Linked DNA regions of Homo sapiens. The protein of the gene in region 2 purifies or fractionates together with the protein of the main gene of each other region. This does not show direct contact. Each region holds a gene or a part of one and is shown on either strand. Other genes may lie near its edges.

What was found.
Region 1: the proteins of ZDHHC18 (region 2) and ZDHHC23 purify together in Homo sapiens (affinity purification with western blotting; one study listed by BioGRID). This does not show direct contact.
Region 3: the proteins of ZDHHC18 (region 2) and RNF144A purify together in Homo sapiens (affinity purification with western blotting; one study listed by BioGRID). This does not show direct contact.
Region 4: the proteins of ZDHHC18 (region 2) and TBL1X purify together in Homo sapiens (affinity purification with mass spectrometry, with the first as the bait; one large-scale study listed by BioGRID). This does not show direct contact.
Region 5: the proteins of ZDHHC18 (region 2) and ETF1 purify together in Homo sapiens (affinity purification with mass spectrometry, with the first as the bait; one large-scale study listed by BioGRID). This does not show direct contact.

What each region holds. Positions count from the first base shown.
Region 1 is NC_000003.12:113,957,993-113,960,942, forward strand, and holds part of ZDHHC23 (palmitoyltransferase ZDHHC23), read left to right. Parts: intron 1-370; coding exon 371-638; 3' UTR 639-1,528; coding exon of another isoform or gene 1,529-1,551; 3' UTR 1,552-2,727; coding exon of another isoform or gene 2,728-2,741; 3' UTR 2,742-2,950. UniProt on the Homo sapiens protein: Palmitoyltransferase that could catalyze the addition of palmitate onto various protein substrates and be involved in a variety of cellular processes.
Region 2 is NC_000001.11:26,833,176-26,836,695, reverse strand, and holds part of ZDHHC18 (palmitoyltransferase ZDHHC18), read right to left. Parts: intron 1-3,520. UniProt on the Homo sapiens protein: Palmitoyltransferase that catalyzes the addition of palmitate onto various protein substrates, such as CGAS, HRAS and LCK. Acts as a negative regulator of the cGAS-STING pathway be mediating palmitoylation and inactivation of CGAS.
Region 3 is NC_000002.12:6,923,907-6,927,426, reverse strand, and holds part of RNF144A (E3 ubiquitin-protein ligase RNF144A), read right to left. Parts: intron 1-3,520. UniProt on the Homo sapiens protein: E3 ubiquitin-protein ligase which accepts ubiquitin from E2 ubiquitin-conjugating enzymes UBE2L3 and UBE2L6 in the form of a thioester and then directly transfers the ubiquitin to targeted substrates.
Region 4 is NC_000023.11:9,685,045-9,688,564, reverse strand, and holds part of TBL1X (F-box-like/WD repeat-containing protein TBL1X), read right to left. Parts: intron 549-3,520; coding exon 290-548; intron 1-289. UniProt on the Homo sapiens protein: F-box-like protein involved in the recruitment of the ubiquitin/19S proteasome complex to nuclear receptor-regulated transcription units. Plays an essential role in transcription activation mediated by nuclear receptors.
Region 5 is NC_000005.10:138,536,717-138,540,236, forward strand, and holds part of ETF1 (eukaryotic peptide chain release factor subunit 1), read right to left. Parts: intron 1-3,520. UniProt on the Homo sapiens protein: Component of the eRF1-eRF3-GTP ternary complex, a ternary complex that mediates translation termination in response to the termination codons. The eRF1-eRF3-GTP complex binds to a stop codon in the ribosomal A-site.

The DNA.
Region 1 (2,950 bases), on a different chromosome or scaffold from region 2:
CCCTTGGTGCCTTTGTTTTCTCATGAGTTAGATGTAATTTACGAATTACTTGTTTATTTAACAAACAGGTGTTGAACGCTGTTATGTCAGGCAGCGTGCTGGGTGTGTGGAGGGTACAAAATGCAAAAAACAGTCCCTGCTATTCTAGTGTAATATACTAGAAAATAGGCACCAGTAATTATAGAATAAACACACACATTCTCCTACTTAAGCAGGTTATTGGCATTCTGAGTATCTTCCAGTTCGGAGGGTTGGGGAAGATGCCAAAGTCTTTAGTAATAAGTAAAAAAATGTGTAAAACGTGAGAATGATGACAGTTTTCTGAATTTGACAAAAACGGCAGCCCTGACAGCCTTTTTCCCTCTCCTAGCTCGGCTCTGTCCTTCACCTGCGTGTGGTACTCTGTGATCATCACAGCAGGCATGGCCTACATCTTCCTGATCCAGCTGATCAACATCAGCTACAATGTGACTGAGCGGGAAGTCCAGCAGGCCCTCCGACAGAAGACTGGGCGCCGGCTCCTCTGCGGGCTCATCGTGGACACAGGCCAGTACAATAGGGGCTTCCTGCGGAACTGGCACCAGTTCTCCACCCTGGGCACACGTGCATTCCACCACCCTGCCGAGGACATTGTCTGAAGTGCCTTCTATGTGGCTCTCTGAGGGATGATGGCTCCTCCTTCCGTCTCCCTTCCATTTTACACTTCAGTGTCCATTTCTATCCCCAGTTTCTTAAAGGCATTATAGGGCCATGCTCAGGTTTAGAGACTGGAGTGGGAAGAAGTTAATTTTTCTGACGCCACAACTTAAGAGACTTTTATACTGAGGCAGTAAAAGTAGAGCCATTCCTTTCCAGTCACCTTTTTAATTGACTCAGTTGCCTGAACTTGAGAAGGATGTGGATTGCTAATGCACAAATTGATAGAAGCAATTCCCATCCATTAGTATGGAGGAAAGAGTGTTGGATTAGGATAGTTTCTAGTCCCTCTTTCGATTCTTAATAGCCATGTGACCCCTAGCTGAGTCACTTTCCCAAGTCTCAGGGTCATCTGCAAAGTGGGGTACTGATGCCTGCCCTGGCTACCTCACAGAGCCGTCATGAGGGTCACGTGAGGGAAGATGGATGTGGAAAGCACTAAAAAACAACTCAAGAGCCATGGAAATACAAAGTATTAGGAAAATATTATGATGGAAGAAAAACGTTTATAGTCTAGAATATTGAAGCCAATATTATTAGGGTAATCAGTTTTCAGCATATACCTTGTTGTACAGTTATGAGAATTTCTCCTTCTTATTAGACATGAACTACTCAAACAGAGAAGATGACCAGATGGATTGATGCTAAGTTGTCTCATCTTGAAAAGACAGTTGACAACAGTTATAAAGATAATTATTGCTAGTGTAATGTAGTGTGGCCATGAGTTTAGGTGATGAGTTCTTCTATTTATATTTTATAAATTCTGCTTGGGTTTCTTATAAATAACTCCAACAGGCATTCATGTGTTTTTCCTCTTCCCATGTTTCACCAGGTAAGGTGCTAGCACACTTGTGACTGTGGCTGGAAGAGGAGAACAGACACTCCTGTGGGGATGCTTTACTCTCTTTTCTGGTAGGAAGGCTGAGTAACATCACGGGCTCGATTATTTTCTTCATGTATTTCAAATGCTGTCAGTTATAGCACTAAATTGTGAAAATCAGCCTTCTGGCATTCACATTATTCTGGTATGAACTTTGAGGAGTTGAGTGACATCTTCCCACTTAACTTGCACATTAATTCTCAATTACCCCTCCCTAAATAACAGTATCTCACTAAGAGAGAAGAAACAGGGTATATGTGGTTTCCACTATTAATGGATTACTGTTCTTCCCTGGCTCTTCCGACAATAACAAGTTGTTTCTTTAATCATATCTTAAAACCGAAAATGTATAAAAGATTAAATATTTATGTACAATGGGTTGTTCTACTATAGAATTAAGATGAGGGAATTTCAGATGAGGAAAATACCCTTTTGAAATGTTAGTTTTGAACATGTACTGTTGTGCAATCCCAAAGATAATTCATGACTCCTTAAATTTGCCTTGGCTTATAGCTTAATATAGGGAAAATATTGCCAGCGTTTTCAGTCATTCTGTGCATGCTGCTTTAAGCAAGAGATTTATATTTGTTGAGAGGAAATATTGCTACTTCCTGCACTTCCACCCTCTGCAGCCAGCACCGTCCCTACTGTTGCCATTAATTGGAGCTGTCCTTAAGATGGTCACCATATTCTTATTCAGGCTGTTGTCATTTTCCCCAGAGATGGTTTGTTTAACGAATGATAGGCTCTGTGCCTGGGGATGTTAGCAGACTCTGGGGTTTGTACAGTGATGCCTTCTCCCTGGCCCAGAGCTGAATATTCATCTAGAATTAAAGTTGGATTTGATATAACAAATTTCTTTCTATACAGGTTTTACATAAGAGAGACAGTAATAATGTCAAGGATAGCCTGTGTGGGCAGAAATTGGTAGTCGTGCTTTTGAATGTCAGCTGTAGAGCCAACTCTGATTATCTAGCCATTGATCATACAAATTGATAGAAACATTAGTCAGTAATTTTAGCTTCTTGCCAAATTGTTCACAACATCTAAATGTAATGTGATGTGATGAAGATAAGTAGTACAAAGAGACCAAAATAATTTGGGAGAATTAGGAATGATGACAATTTTTTTTAACAACTTACCTCTAATAGGGTTACTTGGATGAGCCAACTCCGCTTCCTTCCCATGGATAGGAAGGGACTCTGTGTATTATTCAGGTTTATTGGCACGAAGATACTTGTTTTAAGTTCCTTGAGAACCCATGATGGACAGTTGACAGAATGCTTAAACCTGTCAAAAGATGAGTGATCTTGTGTGGGAAAAGCCTTCCCAGGCGTCTGTACCGAAAGGAGCAGCAAACAAGGGGCTAATCCA
Region 2 (3,520 bases):
TCGGGAGGCTGAGGCAGGAGAATGGCATGAACCTGGGAGGCAGAGGTTGCAGTGAGCTGAGATTGTGCCACTGCACTCCAGCCTGGGCAACGGAGCAAGACTCCGTCTCAAAAAAAAAAAAAAGAAAAAAAGAAAAAAAAAGAAATGAAGGTACAAGGCGGGATGCAGAAGGAAAAATCACAAAGGCTGGACTCATATCACTGATATGCTGAGGGCACCAGAGAGTCACCCAAATTCTGTGGGGTTTGTGGGGGGACAGGGCAGGGGTGGGGAGAACAAATTTGGGATCTTGGAGAGATAACTACAATTGAAGGGAAAGGCCCAGTCAGGGCCTGTTCTGCAGAGCCCTGAGCCAGTTCAGGTGGAACACGAGGCAGGTCTGTCCAGGGGAAGTGGGCAGAGACGTCCTGGAGACAAAGGAGATGGGGTCTGGGAGCTGGTGTATGGCAGTGGAGAGAGACGCAGCCTCTGTGTCCGTCATGTGAACTGTAACAGGGTCTAAGTGAGCATCTGTCACTTGGATTTGGATGTCTCTATCACCTCCCATCAGACCAGGAGCTTCTGGGAGCAATATTGCTCTTCCCAACTGCCTAGAGCCTGCAGGGTGAGCCAGCTGCACAGCCCACCAGCCGGCAAGACAGGATCTCAGATGAGGGTGACCGAGTGCCCTGATTTTCCTGGGATTGAGTGGTTTCCTAAGACAGGAGACTTTCCAGGTGGTCCTGGGTAAACTGGGAGGAGCTGGTCACTCTACCTCAGACTGTCCCCACAGGGCAGGAGCCCTGGGCCAGACCTGTTGGGCTGGAGTTGCTGGGCTGGGGTGCCAAAGGGAAAAGCCCACACTGTCTACATGAGCCTAGGACCAGGTAATCAGTTCATGCTCACATGAACAGCACCACCTGCCTCAGAGACAGCTCCCAACCTTCTGGAAAAGGTTCAGTGATCTTAGTCCTGATCATTTTCGGGGAAATATGTTTTTGGTTTTTTTTGTTTTTTGAGACGGAGTCTTGCTCTGTCACCAGGCTGGAGTGCAATGGCGCAACCTTGGCTCACTGCAACCTCCGACTCCCTGGTTCAAGCGATTATTCTGCCTCAGCCTCCTGAGTAGCTGGGATTACAGGCACACGCCACCATGCCCAGCTAATTTTTGTATTTTTACTAGAGACAGGGTTTCACCATGTTGGCCAGGATGGTCTCAATCTCCTGACCTTGTGATCCGCCCGCCTCGGCCTCCCAAAGTGCTGGGATTACAGGCGTGAGCCACTGTGCCAGCCCTGGGAAATATGTTTTACTTTAATTAGTTAGAAGTCTCCTGGTCACACCCAAAAATTTGGCTTCTATTCAAGTTTGAGAATTCAAAGGCCTCCAAAATGCCACTTTTGCACTTTGCACCTGTTCGCCAAGAAAAGTCTTAGGGACATTCAGCGCCCTACAAGATTGATTCCACCCCATCCTTCCAACTGGAATATCTCTAATATCCCTAACTATCTGAAGTGCTCCTCATATTCTAGCCAACGTGGCCTGCTCAGTGGCCCGTTCCCATCCCTCCTCCTTCCCTCTGCCACTCTCTCTTCCCTCAGCTTTGTCTGCCTGAAGGGCTGCCTCCGCACAGCTCCTGTGCTTGAATTCCACCCAAACTTAAAGACTTAGCTCAAGCATCACTTCTCCAGGAAGCTTCTCCAGTCCCCCAGGCAGAAGATGCTCCTGACTCCTCTGACCCTCTTCTAAAGCCTGATCTCACTGGCAGTGGCTGGTCAGGGCTCCCACCTGGGGCCAACTTGTCTGGAACCCATGAGAGTAAGCTCCTATCAGATTCATTGTTGGCCCCCACCTGCCTTCACTCTGCTGTCAGGGGTCAGCATATAGAATTAACACACAAATGAACAAACCCATGATGCCCAACTGGGAGATGTCCTGACTGTTTCCTCACCTGTCACCCTGACAGAGCAAGGAGGGCCTTCACAGAAGCTCACCTATTCTTCAGTCATTCATTTACTCATTTAGCCAACGTCACTGAGCCTTCTACATGGCGACAAGGTGAACAAGATGCTGGAATTCCATGCCCTCACAGGCCAGCAGAAAGGATGATTTTGTAATGACCACCGTTGCAGCACAGGTTCAGAGAAGGAAGGAGAAGGTGCTCTGGGAATGTGCAATGGAAGGCCTGGCCCAACTGGGGTCAAGAAGGCTTCCCAGAGCACAGGAAACAAGTGGAGAAGAGGATGAAGGAGATGTGTCCCTGCTGCCATCTCAGAAGAGAAAGCAAGGGGTTTGGGAGTGAAAGGCACACACTCTGTCTCTGCTTCTTTATCCTGGCCCTGTGATCACCTGCCTCCGTTTCTCCATCAGTACAATTGGTTAACAGGGTCGCCCTCACTGGGCTGTTGTGAAGATTTGTGGGGATAATAGATGGAAAGCACTCAGCACACGGCCAAGCTCTTTCCAAGAAGGGGATTACTGCTGTCACTGTGATCCACGCAGCTCACAGGAGGCCGAGGATTCCAGGCAGCCAGACCTCTGGGTCCGGCTGAGCTGGACAATAATCCTGCCTCATGATTAGCCCTGACCAGAAGGGGAGGAAGAACGGGGCACAGCTGGGCCTCCCCAGCTGCCAGGTGGGCCAGCCCAGGTCAGACCGTGGGATCCTGAAGGAGTGGCCAGGGACCCAGAGTTTGAAGGGGTAGGACGCTGGATGTAGGTGAGAGGAGGTGGCCCTCGCAGGCGTGGCTGAGGATGGGGCTGGGCAGAGGAATGAGACAAAGAGCAGACAGAGCCCAGAGAACATCCTCTCCAGCTGCTCGCCCTCCCTCCCTCCCTGCTGCACAGAGTATTAGTGAAATGATTTCTAGCGATGGATGCAGCAGGGCTCTGACATTTACAGGCCACTAGATGTCTTCAGGGCCAGCTGGGTGTTTAAAAGCCTGTGTGAACACCATGCTGTTAGGGGAAGGAGCTAACCACGGACCGGAAACCCCCGAGGTGTGCAAGTAGCCACGTCACTTCTCAGCAGGAAGAGCTGGGGTGCAGCAAGCTGAGATTAGGGACCTGGCCCAGTACCCCGCCACCCCGGAACCCACACAGCAGTCTGAAAGGAATCAAGGGCCACCTGGGCTGCCTGGGAGCACAGGGTCTTTCCAGCCACTGCCGTTCCTCACACACGCCCAGGCTGTTTGCCACTCTGGGCTTTGGCCTTACTTTTCCCAGATCCCCGTATTTCTACCACACTCATCTCCAGTGCCGCCTCCTCCTAGAGGTCTCCCCTGACCACCTGACCTAAACTAGCCCACTCCCCAACACCTACTGGGCTCTTCCCTAGATAACCCCACCGTCAAGCCCTCATCTGTTCAGGCCGGTGCTTCTTTGCTCAGATGTCACCTCCTTCACAAGATGTTCCCTGGCCACCCTATGTAAAATCACACACCCTCCCTGTAGCCTTCATCCTCCTTCCCTCCTTTCTTCTCTGTCTGATATCCTAGATATTTAATTATTTGTTATTTATTGTCTCTTTCCTCCTCCTCAA
Region 3 (3,520 bases), on a different chromosome or scaffold from region 2:
AAAGGCTGGATCCACTGCACATGGCCAGGGACAGAAAAAAAACAAGGTCACTGTCAAGGAAGCAGAGCTGCAGGCCAAAGGGAGAGAGTCCCAGGAGTGATTAAAGTATTAACAGATAAGAAATGCTTCCCTCGGCCAATCAGCAGGCAGAAATTGTGCATTCCTTTCAGGAGGAGCTGCAAACACATCCTTCTGAGTCTTACTCAGGCTTTCACAGTTGACAGCACAGTACCTGGCCTAGAGTGAAGGCTACACAAATATTTATTCGGCATATGAAAAACCCTGCACCTAAAATCCTGTGCTATTTCACAAACAGGAGACGTGAAGAGCAGGCAATCTCACGGGACCAACAGGGCTTACTATGTGTTCTGGTTGTTTTTACTACAGTGAAACTGGACTCAACAAAGTACCGCAAGTTTAAGAGATGAATCCCTGCCATGTGGACTCCAGAACGGTAAACTCTCCCTTGTTTCAGAAAGGGCACCCCCGCTCTGCCCCATCCCTTCCTCTCTGCAAGTCCTCACCTTCACTATATAGTCCTCAATGTGTCTTTGAATCCCTGGTACCAAGTAGTTTTTGCCAAATGATGGATTAAAGAACAAAAGTAAATAAACAACAACAACAATAGAAATAAAGAGTAAGATATTCATGAATATTATAGTGAATGAATGTGGCTGTTTCTGGACTCAAATGTCTTTGAAGGGAAAAGACGCAGATTCATTTCAACAAATATTTATTGAGCGCCTCCTATGAGAAGCCTGTGTGCCGAGTGCTAGAGGGGTACAAAGACAACCAGGACAGGACTGGGATTCCCAGCCCACACTGTACCCACACCGAACCTATTGATGGAACACACAGGTGTGCATAGCCCCACACCTGCAACCTTGAAGCCGCATGCATATGGCTCTGGGCCTAATCCATATGGGCTCCTGCTTTGCCAGGAAGAGCAGGTAAGAGAGGGAAAGGCAGTTTTATCAAGGCCTAGCACGGCCAACCCCTGCACGGGGCAGTTCTCTCGCATGTGTTACCAGTCCAGTCCTCCAGGACCACCTCCCAGGCAGACCCTCATTTTCTCTCCTTCTCTTTCTCCAGGAGCCGGCCACGCAGCCCAGCTCTGGCACTGGGCCCTGAACAGAGTCAGCCACCAAACTTTTGGAAAAGCTTGTCGCTTCTTGACAAAAACGGACAGATGCAGCTGACACCAACTCCCCCTCCTCTCTCACTGCCTTCAACACAGATGTGGCGCAGCTGTGGCCAGCCCTTTTGCATGATGGGGCAAAGGAAAACATGCTGAGGATGGCAAAGTGAAAGAAGAGAGAACCTGGCTCTCAGTAACATCCCAAGCCGCTGCACCAGCACCTGGAAGCAAGCACCTACCTTCAGTGCCTTGCTATTAAGGAAACAGAAAGCTGTTTAAGTCCTTGTTAGTAAGTGCTATGTTGCTGGCCAAACATATGCTAACACATCCAAACACAAACAAACACTATGCCTGATACTGGTACATATATATGTGTTGTGTGTATTGATGCATGTGTATGTGTGTGTTTGTGTGTGTGCGCACACGTGTGTGTTGAATCATGTCTCCCCCAAAGGATATATTGAACTCCTAACCCCTGATGCTTATGAATGTGACCTTATTAGGGTGTTTGCAGATGCAATCAAGAGAAGATGGGATCAACAGGCTTGGCCCTAATCCAACATGACTGAAGTCCTTGTGAGAAGAGGTGCACCCCCAGCGCAGAGACAGAGAAGACAGCCACATGAAGATGCAGGCAGATATCAGAGAGAATCATCTACCTGTATTCTGCGCCTTGAACCTGCCCTTTACCTGCGGCTTGCCCACATCAGATCCTGAGGTTCCTGCCTGCTTCTGTCCTTGGATAAATGGGAACTCTTACTCTCATATCTGGCCACTTTCACCCCTACACATGATAACAAGAAGAAAGTAAAGAGAGCAACTGGGGGGGAAGGGGGAGGACAGAAGCTGAAACACAGATGGTTTCTTAGTGTCTCACAATGGATTAAATAAAGAGATTTCTTTTTCTTTTTCCTAATACACCTGGCCCTATCCACCACTCTGCCGGCCACCAATGACCAGACTGGCTCAGTTTTCAGGGCCTTGGATAGTGCTTCACTGAGACAAGAAGAAGAGAGAAGGGCCTGCAATCTGTGAGTGAGATCTGTGAGGATACAGCCAGCCCCATCCCATCCACACCAGGGATTACAATCACTTACTTCTGCCAAGTGGTTAGAAGGAAATGCAAGTGTTTTAGTCAAGAGAGTTCAGATCTAAGGTGCCAACTCAGAAAGTCTCCTGGAAGCTCTTTGGATGCCACTGCCCTAGGCTACAAAGCTCCAGTGCATACGCTATCAAAATTCGCCGTGTGGCAATCGAGGTCGCCAGAAAACTCACAGAAGGACCCAGGTGCTTCCTGACATTCTCCATCCGTCAAAGAGCCAGCCCCAAGGTCTCTGGAAGCCCACACCCTTCCCAAAGCAAAGGCTCCCTTGGAGCACACAGCCTGTGTTATGCTTGTGAGTGCACAACTGGCACCACAGACCATGGGCACATAAGTTACTCAGAAAACGGATTCCTCAGAGACAGAGAATACAGTGAACACAAAGGATGGCTCCTCACACACTTCACAGCACACTTAGCAGTTGCACTTCTTCAACTCTTATACAGGAAGAACCACAAGAATCTCTGGCCCTGGGGCCCTACCTGGCAAGTTCCTCCAAGGCACTGGCGAAAGCATCCTAGTGTTTCATGAGAGGCCCGCACTCGGAAGGGAGATGGAGGCCCCTCCTCTGCTGCTCCTGAGCGTTCATCCAACAGCCCTGTCTCCTCAGCATCCTCCAGAACAAACCCTGCCCGTCCTGGGTCTTTGCCCTGCTCTGGGACAGCTCAGAGCACCCCCTTCTCTACACTCCCCAGCTCTCCAAAGCCCACCTATGCTGAGTCCCATTTCCACAATCGCTTCCTCACCAGACTCCCAGGACATGCGCTCGGATGGGCACATTCAGGCGCTTGGTTCTAACCATTCCACATTATGCATCTCCCTTCACATCGCAGGCAAAGGCCACGTCCTATGCTTCCCGTGCATCGCACAGTGCCTCGGGCCCCCCAGCAACACGGCCACGGAAGTCTCGCCAGCTGTTACTCTGGATCTCACTTACATGGTGTCTACACAACCACGGTACCCAGGATTCTCTCTCTGCATTCCAGGCCACCAGGCTACATTCTACCATCCTCACTCTTAAACCCAAGCAAATATTCCCATCTGACTTCTCAGGGTCTTAAGGTGTATTGTTCTGTGACCTGACCTAAAGAGAGAACCTGGTTTACTCGGATCATGATGGAATACAGAATTTACACTCGAATTCCATTTCTTCATTCATAATCTGTTCCAGGCTTCCCTCTTGAACCAGGTTTCTCTATCTTGTATTCAATCACTTAACAAAAATCCATTCAGAAAGAGCATGATAGGCACTGAGAGAATGTAAAAATGAGTAAGTTCCT
Region 4 (3,520 bases), on a different chromosome or scaffold from region 2:
ACTTTTGTTTATCACGGGCAATAATCATGTGTTACATGAGAGTTCTCAGATTAGCAGGCGCAGCACGATTTCCTAAAGTTGAAGATGAGGGTGAAGAAGCTCAGGTCCAAGGGTTGTGATGGAAAAAATGGAACGGGAAGTTCTTCCGGCCAGATCGTAAGCAAACACTAGAGAGCAGCTTCTAAGACATTTATAGCAGGCAGGTTTTTAAGAAGGCATTCGGATTTGCCCAAGAAGAAAACAATGAACCCAGAGAGGCCCACCGAACTCCCAGAGCCCCTGCACTCACTGACTGAATGTGCTCTGTTCTCTTCCCCATTCACCGTGGCCTCTCTGTTCTTCGATGGATTTTGGTGGGAAACGCCGGCTGAGGTCGTGGTGGCTGCTGTCGCTGCTGCCGTGGCCGCAGCCGCCGCCGCCGCCGCACTGGCTTGCTGCTGAGCGAGCTTCTCTCGGAATGCCTGCTGCCGCGTCTGCACCACGTCGGGCATCACGGCGTCTATCAGTGACAGGGACTCTATGGGGCGGCCGTCGAACACTGTGCCATCCTGGGGAAGCAAGCCAAGGTACAGCTGTCAGCTCACGGGGGTGAGGGCTCTGGGAATGGCCTCTGCTCTCTGGGCAGGAGAAGCGCAGGGAAGTGGGGCGTAAACAGCTGGCTCCCAGCAACCAGGGGGCCACGGGGGAAGCGGCATGGACCTGGAGCCTGGGGTGAAGGGATCCCACGGTGGGCAGGGAAGGGGACACGACAAACTGTTGGTAAGAACTAAGTGTGATGGTTGTTCTGAGTGTCAAACCCAATTGGGGCATTGAGGACAAAAAGGCCATTTATTCTTGACAGAAAGTGCTATCCCTGATGGCACAATTCTCAACGTGGCGGGGGCGGGGGGTGACTGTGACTCCTTGGGGGGCATTAGGCAACGTCTGGAGACTTTTTTGGCTGTTACAACTAAGGGAGGAGAGGTGCTCCTGGCATCTGGTGGGTGGAGCCCAGGGACGCTGCTCAACATCCAACAGTGCCCAGGATGGCCCCACCACAGAGAAACACGCAGCCCCAAATACTGAGTGCTGCGGTGGAGAAGACCTGCCCACGTGCTATCGCGACTGTGCAAAATCTCTGCAAATGACCATCCATTATATGGGAGGGTAACGCTTCAGAAGCAGAGCCCAAATGAGATGCACACAGCATTTAGGCCTGGATTCCAAGTCCATCTGTCCAGGGGATTTAATAAAATAGGCACTTGCTGCTACTTGAAATGACTCCTTGGGTTCAGGGTTAGACTAACCATAGCCATGACACAATTGACATCATTTTGTTTTGATTCATGTTTTTTTGACCATTCTTTGATTCTCTGATTTCCGTTTACCATGGAAAACTTTCCACACACGTTTAAAAATACAGCAGGAGGTTCTTTCCTTGTGAAACACGCCAGATATTCGAATCAGGTGAACCTCAGTAAGCCTTGGGGTTGTATCTGGATGTGCAAACACATGTTTATATGCTCTGAACCTGAATTACTTCAGAAGTGAGGAAGAACTGAAAGGCTCAGGTTTCAGCTGAAGAATAACTAAATGAAACATCACTCCAGATGATTTCTGATTACAAGACAATATTCAAAATAAAGAAAACAATACAACCTATGTAAAGAACTAGCTGCATCACCTCCTCAGGCACTCTTGGCCCTTGATTCTGGCCATGGAGTGGACAATGGTGACCGATGGGTCAAGACGCTCCCACACCCCCTTCCTCCTTCATATGTTCACACCCAAATGAACAAGCCCATGACAAAACGCGGTAACTGTCCAAAGTAGTAACAACATGTCCTCATTTAAACTCCGCGGGCACACTGTCTCTCTTTTTTCCTTAGAGACGGGGTCTCGCTCTGTCATCCAGGCTGGAGTGCAGGGGCACAGTCATGGCTCACTGCAGCCTCAAACTCCTGGACCAAACTGATCTTCCTGCCTTAGCCTCCGAGTAGCTGGGGTTACGAGCATGTGCCACTGCACCTGGCTAATTTTTTTTATTTTATGTAGAGATAGGGTCTCATTATATTGGCCAGGCTGGTCTAGAACTTCTGGCCTCAGGCAACCCTCCTGCCTTGGCTTCCCAAAGTGCTGCGATTACAGATGTGTGCTACCGCCCCTGGCGTCTCACTTTTTAATGATTAGAAACCATTGTGACAAATGGGACAGTCTTTCATTAGCCCCTAGAGTGCTGGAATCTGGAGTGCCGAGGGAAGGCAACTATGAAGGCTTCTCAACAGATGAGAGGTAGAAGGCAATGAGCAGAGAAAAACAGAGTCACAGGCGCCTTGAGATCTGATGGCTGGCTGGACCTTGGAGACATGTCCTCTTAGATACACACGTGTGTGTTTTGCAGTGAGGAAACTAGACAGGGCCAGAAGGAGTCAGTGGAAGATCCCGGGCACACAGTGTGAAGGGGTTTGCCAGGGAAAAAGGAGCACAAGAGAGGAAAAAACACCGGAGTTTCGAAAGCCACAGCTTTGCGAAAAATGGCAGGCAGAAGTGCAAGAAAGAAAACAGGGACTGGGTACAGTGGCTCACGCCTGTACTCCCAGCACTTTGGGAGGCCAAGGCGGGAGGATCGCGGGAGGATCGCTTGAGCCCAGGAGTTCAAGACCAGCGAGACCTCATCTCTACAAAAAATAAAAAAATTATCTGGACGTGGTGGTGTGTACCTATAAGTTCCAGCTGCTCAGGAGGCTGAGGCAGGAGGATCTTTTGAGCCAGGAGGTTGAGGCTGTAGTGAGCTATGATTGTACCACTGTACTCCCACCTGGGTGACAGAGAGAGACCCTGTCTTAAAAAAAAAAAAAAAAAAAAAAAGAAAAGAAAAGAAAAAGAGAACAGGATATTATTACTTTGTGATTTTCTAAAAGAGTTTTTTAAAGCAGTGTAACATGCTGTGAAGGAGAAAGGTTTGTAAGGGCAAGACCAGTTCCCAGAAAGACGGGACAGAGGGAATCCTGGAAGAATGTGACTGCCAGGTGGGATGGATGACGGTACAGTATGGAAAAGTTCAGTAGAATCACGCGCCTGGGTCAGAGTAGGAGAAAGAGAAGCAGAGGGAGGAAGCTGCAGGGGACTGAGAAATCAGTAACAGGGACTGTCTGTGGTCCCAGTGCTTTGGGAGGCTGAGACAGGAGGATCACTTGAGCCCAGGAGGTCGAGGCTGCAGTAAGCCATGACTGTGCCACTGCACCCTAGCCTGGGCAACAGTGTGAGACTCAGTCTCTAAAAATAAAATAGGGACTCAGGTGAAGGCGGCAAGAAAGGTTGTGGATCCCATTATTCCCCAGAAGTCAAGGGGATCTTCACTGCAGAATCATGAGACCAGAATAGGAGGGGACAAGAGAGGGTGAGGTGTGTGGTTTAAAACCAAAATTGGTATAAAATTGGCACAACTCCTCACTGTGGACCAATGTAAAAAGTGGGAGGGGTTCCAAGCCAAGTGCACAGTTTTAATGTGCATTTATTTTTCCATCCTCCTACCCCATCT
Region 5 (3,520 bases), on a different chromosome or scaffold from region 2:
TCTTCAAATAGGATCGAAGACCATTTATAGCCCTGCTGCAAAGCTGACACTAACTTTTTTAACAATGAAGTACCATCCCAGGACAGGGGGTGGTGCTGTACTGGGCCGATCCTCAATCTCAAGTTCAAAGAAAACGAGCCCTGTGAAGAAAGGGTCCAACTGGTGTGGAGGATGGGAGAGACCTATAACCTACACAGCACTCTGCCTTAAATGATACTCTAATTATGTACTCTTGCTTACCTTGCAATATGTCCAGAGTAAGCCTTCCTTCCCTGGAAGCATAAGTATATCTGCTATTACAATAGGAGGTCTGTCAAGACTTGAAATTCAAAGGGAGTAATTGTTCATTAGGTTCACAGTGCATAGAACACCATGCCAGATACAACGGCTGTTAGGACTAGTTCTGAGTTGAAGCAGGCAGCCTACATACTTGGAGGAAACTAAGGACCACCACCACATCCTTTCTAACATATATACTCTGTCCTCTTCCCTTTACTACCTCTTTTCTCTCTCATCTATTTCTCCTCTTTCTCATAGTTCAGACCTGTGGCATCTGTATCCTGATCTTTTAATAATACAGTTCTCCATTAGGGTATCTCTACAGAATCAATGTTTGTATATACAAAAGGAAAGAGCTAACATTACAGAGCACTCTCTATGTGGCAAATGTGGTGTTAAGTATTTTAACCCATATTATCTCAACTGTTACCACCTAATCCAAGATTAATGTCCATAGTTACACATGTGGAAACCAAAATTTGGAAAGAGTGAGAAGTCTGTAGTTGTTTGTTCTATATTCATCTCTTCTCACAAAACTTAAAATAGTCTAGTTCTTGACTTTTTTCTCATGTGGTCTTTATTTATTATTATTGTTATTATTATTTTTTTTGAGATGGAATCTTGCTCTGTCGCCCAGGCTGGAGTGCAGTGGCGCAATCTCGGCTCACTGCAAGCTCCGCCTCCCGGGTTCAAGCCATTCTCCTGCCTCAGCCTCCCGAGTAGCTGGGACTACAGGTGCCCGCCACCATGCCTGGCTAGTATTTTTAGTAGAGACAGGGTTTCACTGTGTTAGCCAGGATGGTCTCGATCTCCTGACCTTGTGACCTGCCCACCTTGGCCTCCCAAAGTGCTGGGATTACAGGCGTGAGCCACCGCACCAGGCCCCTATTATTATTATTATTTTTTTTTTTTCTGAGACTGAGTTTTGCTCTTGTTGCCCAGGCTGGAGTGCAATGGCGCAATCTCGGCTCACCGCAACCTCCACCTCCCAGGTTCAAGCGATTCTCCTGCCTCAGCCTCCCTAGTAGCTGAGATTACAGGCATGCACCACCATGCCTGGCTAATTTTGTATTTTTAGTAGACAGGGTTTCTCCATGTTGGTCAGGCTGGTCTCAAACTCCTGACCTCAGGTGATCCACCTGCCTTGGCCTCCCAAAGTGCTAGGATTACAGGCGTGAGCCACCACGCCCGGCCTGGGCCCCTATTATTTTTGAGACAGAGTTTCACTCTGTTGCCCAGGCTGGAGTGCAGTGGCGGAATCCCGGCTCACTGCAACCTACGCCTCCAAGGTTCAAGCATTTCTCCTGCCTCAGCCTCCCGAGTAGCTGGGATTACAGGTGCAAGCCACCACACCCAGCTCATTTTTGTATTTTTAGTAGAGACAGGGTTTCACCATGTTGGCTAGGCTGGTCTTGAACTCCTGACCTCAAGTGATCCACCCACCTTGGCCTCCCAAAGTGCTGGGATTACAGGTGTGAGTCAACGTGCCCAGTCCTCATGTGGCCTATTAATTTGTCTAACCAACAGTTTGGGGGAAGGGAGGCATGGAAAGAGCCAGAATAGAGGACAAAAAAAGTCTTCTTTATGAGCCTGAACTTTAAATGGTTCAGGTATTTGTATCAAAGACCACAATGTATCATTTTAGCTACAACCAGCCCTTCAACGATAGTGAGGGAAAAAAAAAAAGAATGTGAAATTCAGTGCTTTGAGAATATTATTTCCACCACCATTTAGGTGAATATTCTATTAACCAACAATGTTTACTTGGGGAAGGTACTCAAACACATCCAACATACCTTAATTTATTCAAAGTATATAAATTAAGCAATCTGTTCATATTAATTATCTCTAAGATTTAAAACATTAACCTATTCAATGATCTCGCCAAAACACTGTTAAATCTATATAATGTGAGGAATTCAGTGGGGATTCTTTAAAAATGGTTATATTTGGGGGCAGGAACAACCAATTTTATTTCATTTAGAATTAAGATATCAACAAGTTATTTTTAAGTAAACAGTTTTTAAAATGTCCAAACACTACAGCAGAAGTTTGCAAGCTCACTGACCTTCAAACAAGGGTTATGGTTATGAGGGTTATCTGACCAAGTGTTCATTGGATAAGAAACACATAAGGTTTCCTAGTGAAGATAAGTGAAGACATTTTAACACCCACAGACACAACCTAACCCAAATTAACACTGTCCATTCCTTTGTCACATTCACCACTGTCCCTGGCTAGCACAGGCTCTAGTTATGATTTTATTAACATTACCTTAAAACTATAAGGTGTCCAACATTATTTCTGAGGCCACCTCTTGCCTGCTCAGAAAACACCAAGGGAAAAAACAACCAATAATTCTCCCCCTTTTTCCAACATACGTTGACCTGTTTTAGTTCCTTATTCAAGATACCCTCAACCACAGTATTGGTTTATGTATACATTTGTCCTTCATAAGCCAACTGTGGAGCATATACCAGGAGCAATCATGAACAGGGAAGAACTACCATCAACTTTAAGTGGGGCCTATGTCTACCAAAATAATTAACTGGTTATTTTACTAGCACACACAAACTAACATTCGACCAGGCTTATCTGAAACCAAATAAGCATGTTCTACCCAAATCAAAAATCAAGTTTATGTGTGACACTCCTTTCAACTCAGAAGATTAAGTATGATGCTGGTTACAAAACAGAATGCTATGAAGTTCCCCATTTTAGTAATGTGGCCTCTATAAATGCTCTTCTACACACGTGTAACATAAAATAGAATCTGTTATAGCTCAGACTACATTTTAAGGAAATCTAGTTTTGTATTTTCTGAAAATAAAATATACCCATTATAGCACATTGGTTTAAGTTCTGAACTCTGCTACATTTTTGCTGTGACATCTTGGACAAATTATCTCTTAGCCTCAGGTGCCTTGTCTACCAAATGGTGGCAATACTTGTGAGGATTAAATGACTTAATAATGTACTGTAGCACAGTCTATAATATAGTATGTGCTTAATAAATTATTTTGCCAACATACTTCCCTTTATTCAGATGTAGTTAGTGAGCCCATTTTGCAGGTGGTTCCTTTTTCAAGCTACATTAAATTTGGGTCATATATCAAGAGATAACCACATAGGATTATCTTAATTTCAAAATCACTCTTATTCTAGCATATTTTAATAACTACTGTTAAAAACAAATCCATGATTCCTATGCCTAGAATTCTACACTGCTAAGGGGAGGAAA